Linked DNA regions of Homo sapiens. The protein of the gene in region 1 purifies or fractionates together with the protein of each later gene. This does not show direct contact. Each region holds a gene or a part of one and is shown on either strand. Other genes may lie near its edges.

What was found.
Region 2: the proteins of CCNQ (region 1) and MYH14 purify together in Homo sapiens (affinity purification with mass spectrometry, with the first as the bait; one large-scale study listed by BioGRID). This does not show direct contact.

Annotation. Positions count from the first base shown.
Region 1 is NC_000023.11:153,596,887-153,600,795, reverse strand, and holds the start of CCNQ (cyclin-Q), read left to right. Parts: upstream 1-1,656; 5' UTR 1,657-1,722; coding exon 1,723-1,834; intron 1,835-2,633; exon of another isoform or gene 2,634-3,374; intron 3,375-3,909. UniProt on the Homo sapiens protein: Activating cyclin for the cyclin-associated kinase CDK10.
Region 2 is NC_000019.10:50,276,552-50,280,360, reverse strand, and holds part of MYH14 (myosin-14), read right to left. Parts: intron 3,605-3,809; coding exon 3,460-3,604; intron 2,279-3,459; coding exon 2,072-2,278; intron 325-2,071; coding exon 220-324; intron 131-219; coding exon 1-130. UniProt on the Homo sapiens protein: Cellular myosin that appears to play a role in cytokinesis, cell shape, and specialized functions such as secretion and capping.

The DNA.
Region 1 (3,909 bases):
CATGTGAGGTCAAGGCCTCACATTTTCTCCTGAAGGTGAAGGGACTCCGGAGGGTGTTAGGCAGGGCAGGACCTGTTCAGCCTCGCCTTTTAGAAAGCTCGCTCTGGCGGCTGGTATTGTGGGGTGAATGCCAGCCCCCAAAAGGTGTGTCCGTGTCCTAATCCCTGTTACTGTGACCTTATTTAGCAGAAGGGCCTTTGCAAGATGTAATGAAAATAAGGATGTCAAGATGAGCTCCTCCTGGATTATCTAGGTAGGCCCTAATCCAGTGACAGGTGTGCTTATAAGAGACAGACGAGAAGACAGGGAGAAGGCCATGTAGAGACGGAGGCACAGATTGGAGTGATGGGGCCACAAGCCCAGGAAGAACTCAGGCTGCAGAAGCTGGAAGAGCAAGGAAGAACTGATCCTCTGCCAGAGCCTTTGAGGGAGCAAAGCCCTAGTGTCACCTCCATTTCAGGTGTCTGGCCTCCAGAATTGAGAGAGGATATACTTCTGCTGTTTTTAGCAACCCAATTTGTGGTCATTTGTTACAGCAGCCCCAGGAAACTAACCCAGCTGGGATGGAGAGAGGACTTGGGGAGGCTGGTGGAGGCAGGAAGTGCTGAGGAAGGAGAATGAGGCCGGACTGGGTGTGTGGGGTGGGGGTAAGAGGTGGAGACTTCCACACCATCAGGAGATCAAGGCGCCTGGGCAGAAGGGTTTAGGGAGCAGTAGCTTTTTCCTCTCCATATTGCCAGCTGTCTGAAATTGTAGCAATGATCTGAATGTATCAGAATGACTCCAGTGACTGTCACTAACTTGGGAGTGAGTACCTTTGGGGTTCTATGTCCCTAAAGCCTGATGCACCATTTCCTGCTTGTGGAAGACGCGAATGAAAAATGAGATGGTAAATACCTGAGTTCGATATTCAGCATTCATTCAGCAAACATTTATTAGGCTCCTACTGTGCGTCGCGCTGGAAAGGCAAGCAGAAGCTAGATTCCCAATCGATCCCGGGAGGCTGGACGATCCAGACACAAACACCGTTCATGCGTCTATTCGAAAAGGCCCTCTTGGAATTTTGTGCACAGCATTTCCTTGGGGTGTCGATGGATCGGGGTCTGCAAACATTAGCACCTTTTCCGGTGGCCGCTGTCTTCTCAGACCTCAGACACCGGCGCCTCCCCGTGAACTCCCGCAGGCGTCCCTAGCCCAGGGCTTGGCGGGCGCTGCCGGTTGTACCTGGCCTAAGCCACGCTGGGCCGACAGCCCGGGGCGACACCCCCTTCGGACGGCGGGGATTTGCGGCTCGGGTGACCGGAGGTGCCCTCCCGCGGGTCTCGGAGCAGCTCCGCGGGCTCTCGCTCCGCGGGGAGGAGCCTGCGTCTCCCAGGGGCGGGGCTCGAGGCGCCTAGGGGCCGGTGGACACATACCAGCCGCCCCGTGGTGTCGGCCTCTGCGCCTGCGCCTGCGCCTGCGCGCGCGGCCAGGCAGCGTCTGTGGCGCAAGCGCGCGCTCACCCTTGGGCGAGGGCCCTGAGGGGCGGGGCGGGGCGGAGGAGCGGCGGGGCGGCGAGGGGCGGGGCGGGGCGGCGAGGGGCGGGGCGGGGCGGCGAGGGGCGGGGCGGGGCGGGGCCGGACGCGGCCGGGTGGGGCGGCAGCGCCCGCCGCGAGCACCTCCAGTTCTGCCGGCTTCTGCGCGCCGGGGCCGCCTCTCCTTCCGCCGGTGCCGCGGCGCCTCATGGAAGCCCCGGAGGGCGGCGGAGGGGGGCCTGCAGCGCGGGGCCCGGAGGGGCAGCCGGCGCCCGAAGCCAGGGTGCACTTCCGAGTGGCGAGGTTCATCATGGAGGCAGGTAACCGCGGCCGGGGGAGGCCAGGACAGGCGGCGCCGCGGCCCGCTTCGCGGAGCGGGCCCGGCTGGCCAGGCCGGCCTTCTGGAGTGCTCACCGTAGCAGAGGCCGGGAAGCCCTGCTCGGGGCTGAGGACCTCCGCCTTTGCGCCGCGCCCGGTGTGCTGAGCAGTGAGCCGCGAGGTATCCCCATGGCGTGGACCGGTGTGCAGGCCCTAGGAGAGGACGTGGCCGGGTTGGGCCTCCAGCGAGGCGGAGACCGGCCCGGGCGCCCGCAGCTCTGCGCAGTGCGCCACGCCTTCTGCCGGCACCCGCGGCCCTGCACTCCGGTAGACTTTATGGCGCTTAGTCGCGCGGAGCCTTTTGGAGAACGCTGTCCGAGGGTTCCTGTCACTCCGGGGACCTAGGCTGCTTGCAGCTCCTGTTCCGAACCCTGCCAGGACATCCACAGTAGTGTTGGGCTCCGCGCTTCCCAGGCGAGGTGATTAAGCTAAGATCTCTGTAGAAACATCGTTTCCATCCAGCCATCAACAGTATTTTTTTTTTTTTCGAGACGGAGTCTCGCTCTGTTGGCCAGGCTGGAGTGCAGTGGCGTGATCTCGGCTCACTGCAACCTCCGTCTCCCGGACTAAAGCAATTATCCTTCCTCACGCTTCCGAGTAGCTGGAATTACAGGTGTGTGCCACCGTACCCGGCTAATGTTTGTATTTTTAGTAGAGACGGGGTTTCACCATGTTGGCCAGGCTGGTCTTGAACTCCTGGCCTCAGGTGATCCAGTTGCCTCGCCCTCCCAAAGTGCTGGGATTACAGGCGTGAGCTACCTCGTCCGGCCCATCAACAGTATCTTGATAGGAGATACTGTTAGTTGGCGGGTAGTTATTTCCTACCTTTACTGCTTGGGGGAGAAGGGTTGGGCAGATGTGCTTTCTACCCAAGGTGGGCGGAGAGTCTGAGGACTGCTGCAGGACTGTTCATCCCAGTGATATGTAAATTTACTGTAATTTGCAAGAAGAGTTGCAAAGTTATTATTAGGGAAGGATGGCAGTGACACCTCATCTGCTACCGTCTGCTCGGAGGGTCCGTGTAAATTGGGGTTTGCTCTGTAAAACAAAGCTTGGAAGGTCATGTCAGTAACAGCACCTTATCTGGCATCTCCTGGAATGAGGGGTCCCAGGTAGGAATTGTCTTTATATAACAAGTTTAGACCTTCTGAGGGACTTCTTTATAAAATGTATTACACAATCCTTTGTCCTTTGTAGGAGGCTAAATATTGATTTCCCAAAGATGTCCCTATCCTAATCCCTGGAACCTGTGAATGTCATCTTATATAGCAAAAGAGATTTTGAAGATGTGATTAGAGACCTTAAGATGGGAGATCATCCTAGATTATCTGGGTGTAACCACACCCATCCTTATAAGGCAAAGGCAGGAGGAGTCACCGTCAGAGAAGGCCACGTGAGGACAGAAGCAGAGTTAGAAGCTTTGAAGATGGAGGAAGGGGCCAGCAACCAAGGAATGCAGCCCTCCTCTAGAAGCTGGAAAAGGCAAGGAAACATTCTCCCATGGAGCCTCCAGAAGGAGCCAGCCCTGCTTAGACGTTGATCTTAGCTTTCTAGGCTAGTTTTGGACTTCTGACTTCCAGGATCGGAGGAGTATAAATGTGTGTTGTTTAAGTGGCTGAATTTGTGGTGATTTGTTGCAGTAGCCCTAGGGAACTGATCTACCTTCTTAGGCAGAGGATGCTGACTGTCATTTCATGGTTGATTGTCGGTTGTTCTTCGCCTTTCTGTTTTGGCCTAGTGGATGTCATTTAACCTTGTCTTGTGAACCCTGGTGGTTGTGAATTTGTTTTGGTTCTGTGCACCAGGGCAGTGATTTTCTTAGGAGCCATTCAGGGATGGGCTGGGGATGGGCTTTAACCCCTAAGTAGAATCCACTGAATCCTGCTCTGGTGTTTTGAGTTTTGTTCACCTTAAAAATTTTTTTCTTTCTCTTTTTTGTAGAGACAGGGTCTCACTCTGTTGCCTAGGCTGGTCTCGAATTCCTGGGCTCAAGCAATCCTTCTGCCTCAGCCTCCCA
Region 2 (3,809 bases), on another chromosome or scaffold:
CACGGCCCGCCCGTTCCCTGGCAGCTGCCTCCTCCTCCAGCTGCTCACGCAGCCCGGCTGCCTCAGCCTCCATGGCTCGCACCCGGGACCCCAAGGCCAATTTCGCCCTGGTCTCCTCCTGCAGCAGCTCCTGTAGATGGAGGAGACGGCAATGTCAGGTGTGGCTGGGAGGACAAGGAGGGGAGGGTGACGGTGGAGCCGAAGGGCAGGCAGGGTCACCTGGGCATCGTGCAGCTGGGCTTCTGTGCTGCTCAGCTCCTTGCTAAGACGGATGGTTTTGGACTCAGCCTCGTTCAGCGCCCCAGACACATTCTCCAGTTCAGCCTGCAGGGAAGGGACGGGAATGAAGCCCTCCAATCGTGGCTTCCACCCAGTGACCCCATCTGCCTCAACTCTCTACCACACTGGCAGGAATGTGAAATGTTACAGCTGCCGTGGAAAACAGTCTGGCAGATCCACAGATGCTTAAACATAGGGTTCCCACATGACCCAACAATCCCGCTCCTAGGTGCATACCCAAAAGAAATGAACGCATAGGTCTATGCAGAAACTCGTACCGGAATGTTCTCAGTGGCATTACTCACCATCGCCAAGAGGCGGGAACAGCCCCAATGTCCATCAATAAACGAATGGATAAACAAATGTGGAATATCCATACAACGGGCATTATTCGGCAATAGAAAGGTATATGGATCTATTGCGTGCTGTTGTTTTTTGGGGTTTTTTTGAGACAGAGTTTCACTCTTGTTGCCCAGGCTAGAGCGCAATGGTGCAATCTCGGCTCACTGCAACCTCCGCCTCCCAGGTGCAAGTGATTCTCCTGCCTTAGCCTCCCAAGTAGCTAGGATTACAGGCATGCGCCACCACACCCGGCTAATTTTGTATTTTTAGTAGAGACGAAGTTTCACCATGTTGGTCAGGCAGCTGGTCTTGAACTCCTGACCTCAGGTGACCCACCCGCCTCCGCTGCCAAAGTGCTGGGATTACAGGCATGAGCCACTGCACCCAGCTGGTGTTTTAAAAATTAAAAAATAAAAAAGGAATTATGCTACGAGCTGCAACACAGATGAATCTTGAAACCGTTATGTTAAGTAAAAGAAGGCAGCCACAAAGGCCACCCATATATAGTAGGATTCCATTTATATAAGATCTCCAGAATGGGAGATCAGTAAAGACAGAAAGGAGATTAGTGGTTCCCTGGGTGGGGTGGGGGAGAAGTGGGGGATGATAGCTAAAGGGTATAGGATTTTCTTTTTGGGATAATGAAAATGGTCCAAAATTAGATTATGGTGATGGCCATACCACTCTGTGAATATACCAAAATCCATTGAATTGCACATCTTAAATGAGTGAATTATTATTATTATTATTGGAGATGGAGTTTCACTCTCGCTGCCCAGGCTGGAACGCAATGGCGCGGTCTCAGCTCATCACAACCTCTGCCTCCCGGGTTCAAGTGATTCTCCTGCCTCAGCCTCTCGAGTAGCTGGGATTACAGGCATGCGCCATCACGCCCGGCTAATTTTGTGTTTTTTTTTTTTTTTTTTTAGTAGAGACAGGGTTTCTCCATGTTGGTGAGGCCGGTCTCGAACTTCTGACTTCAGGTGATCTGCCCGCCTCGGCCTCCCAAAGTACTGGGTATTATTATTATTATTTTGAGACAGGATCTCACTTTGTTGCCCAGGCTAGAGTGCAGTGGCACAATCACAGCTCATTGCAGCCTCGACCTCCCAGGCTCAAGGGATCCTCCTTCCTCAGTCCCCTGAGTAGCTGGGACTACAGGCACATGCCAGCATACCTGGCTAATTAAAATTTTTTTTTTTCTGAAGATGGGGTCTCACTATGTTGCCCAGGCTGGTCTCGAACTCCTGGGCTCAAGCAATCCTCCTGCCTTGGCCTCCCAAGTGCTAGAATTACAGACATGAGCCACTGTGCCCAGACTTGTACATGATTATGTTGGAAGAGCCAAACGAGACAATTGGTTTGATATGGACCAAATAGAAGCCCAGAGAGGGCAGGCATGTCACCAAGGTCACACAGCAGAAACCTCTGCCCTGCCCACCCCACTTACCTGGGCTCGCTGCAGCTTCTCAGCAGCCTCCGCTCGTGCCCTCTCCCCATCACCAGCCCGGCCCTGCACCTCCTGCAGCTGTAACTCCAGGCGGCGCCTCCGCTGCTCACCCTCCTGACGTGCAGTCTGCAGGCTGCTCAGTTCTGCCCGCAGCTCGGACACCTCGGCCTCCAGGGCCAGCCGGGTCTTCTCCCATGCACCTTTGCCCTGGTGTGGGAAGGAGATGAGCAAAGATCTATGAGGCCTTTCCTGGACCAGGCCAGGCACACTCCCATCTCAGGGCCTTTGCACTGGCTGTTCCCTCTGCCTGGAACACACTTCTCCCAGTGAACAAATAGCTCACCCCTCACTCCCAATTTTTTTTTTTTTTTTGAGACAGTGCTTCAGTCTTGTTGCCCAAGCTGGAGTGCAAAGGCACGATCTCTGCTCACTGCAACCTCCGCCTCCCAGGTTCAAGTGATTCTCCTGTCTCAGCCTCCCAAGTAGCTAGGATTACAGGCGCCCACCACCACGCCCGGCTAATTTTTTGTGTTTTTAGTAGAGATGGGATTTTGCCATGTTGGCCAGGCTGGTCTTGAACTCCTGACCTCAGGTGATCCACCCACCTCAGCCTCCCACAGTGCTGGGATTACAGCCATGAGCCACCACGTCTGGCCCATTTTTGTTTGTTTGTTTGTTTTTTGAGACAGAGTCTTGCTCTGTCACCCAGGCTGGAGTGGAATGGTACAATCTTGACTCACTTCAACCTCTGCTTCTTGGGTTCAAGTGATTCTCCTGCCTCAGCCTCTCAAGTAGCTGGGACTATAGGCGTGTGTGCCACCACGCCCAGCTAGTTTTTGTATTTTTAGTAGAGATGGGGTTTCACCATGTTGCCCAGGCTGGTCTCGAACTCCTGGCCTCAAGTGATCTGCCTGCCTCAGCCTCCCAAAGTTACAGGCAAGAGCCACCATGCCCGGCCACTCCCTCAGTTTTTTACCCTGATGTCACCTTCTCGCAGAATACCTCCACAGCCTCTCTACTTAAAAACTCACCCGCCTTAGAATTCTGATCCCTTTTTCCTGTTCATTATGGCCCCATAGCACTTATCACCCCAATATAAACTGAAAGTGTTTATATTGTTTACCCTCTGCCTCTCTCACTAAAAGGAAAGCTCCACAAGGGAAGGCAGTGCTGGTTGTTGGGTTCATGGCTGGTTCCCCAGCAATGCTCCTGGAACATAGTCCACACCCCATTAATGCTTGCTGAATGAAAGATGCACATGAATGCGTGAGGAAAGGGGCCCAGGGAGATGAGCTAGCCTAGAACCAGCCAGCGGTACCTCCTCCAACCCCGCGTCCTGCCCTGCCCTCCCCGTGGCCCCCCTGCCCTGTCCCCCTGCCCCAACCCACCCTCCGGGCCTGCTCCAGCTGCTCCGCCAGCTCCCCCAGGGCCTGGCCGTGGCGCTGCCTCAGCTCCTGCACTGCCGCCTCGTGGATGCGAGTCTCCTCCTCCAGAGTCTTCTTCAGCTCCGTCACCTCCTGTTCCCTCTTGGACCTTTATTGGGGGAAAGGAGAGAGGATGGGAATTTCAGAGCAGAGGAAGGCAGGGGCTTTGGGGGAGCTGGTTGTTTCTCCTTTTCATGTTTCCTTAAAATATGAGGGCCTCATGTTATGCTCCTCAGGAGATCTGGGTGGTGATGCTGTGGAAGGAGTGTGGCTTTAAGGGTGAACTCCTATTCACCTTTCAAAACCCTTTTCCA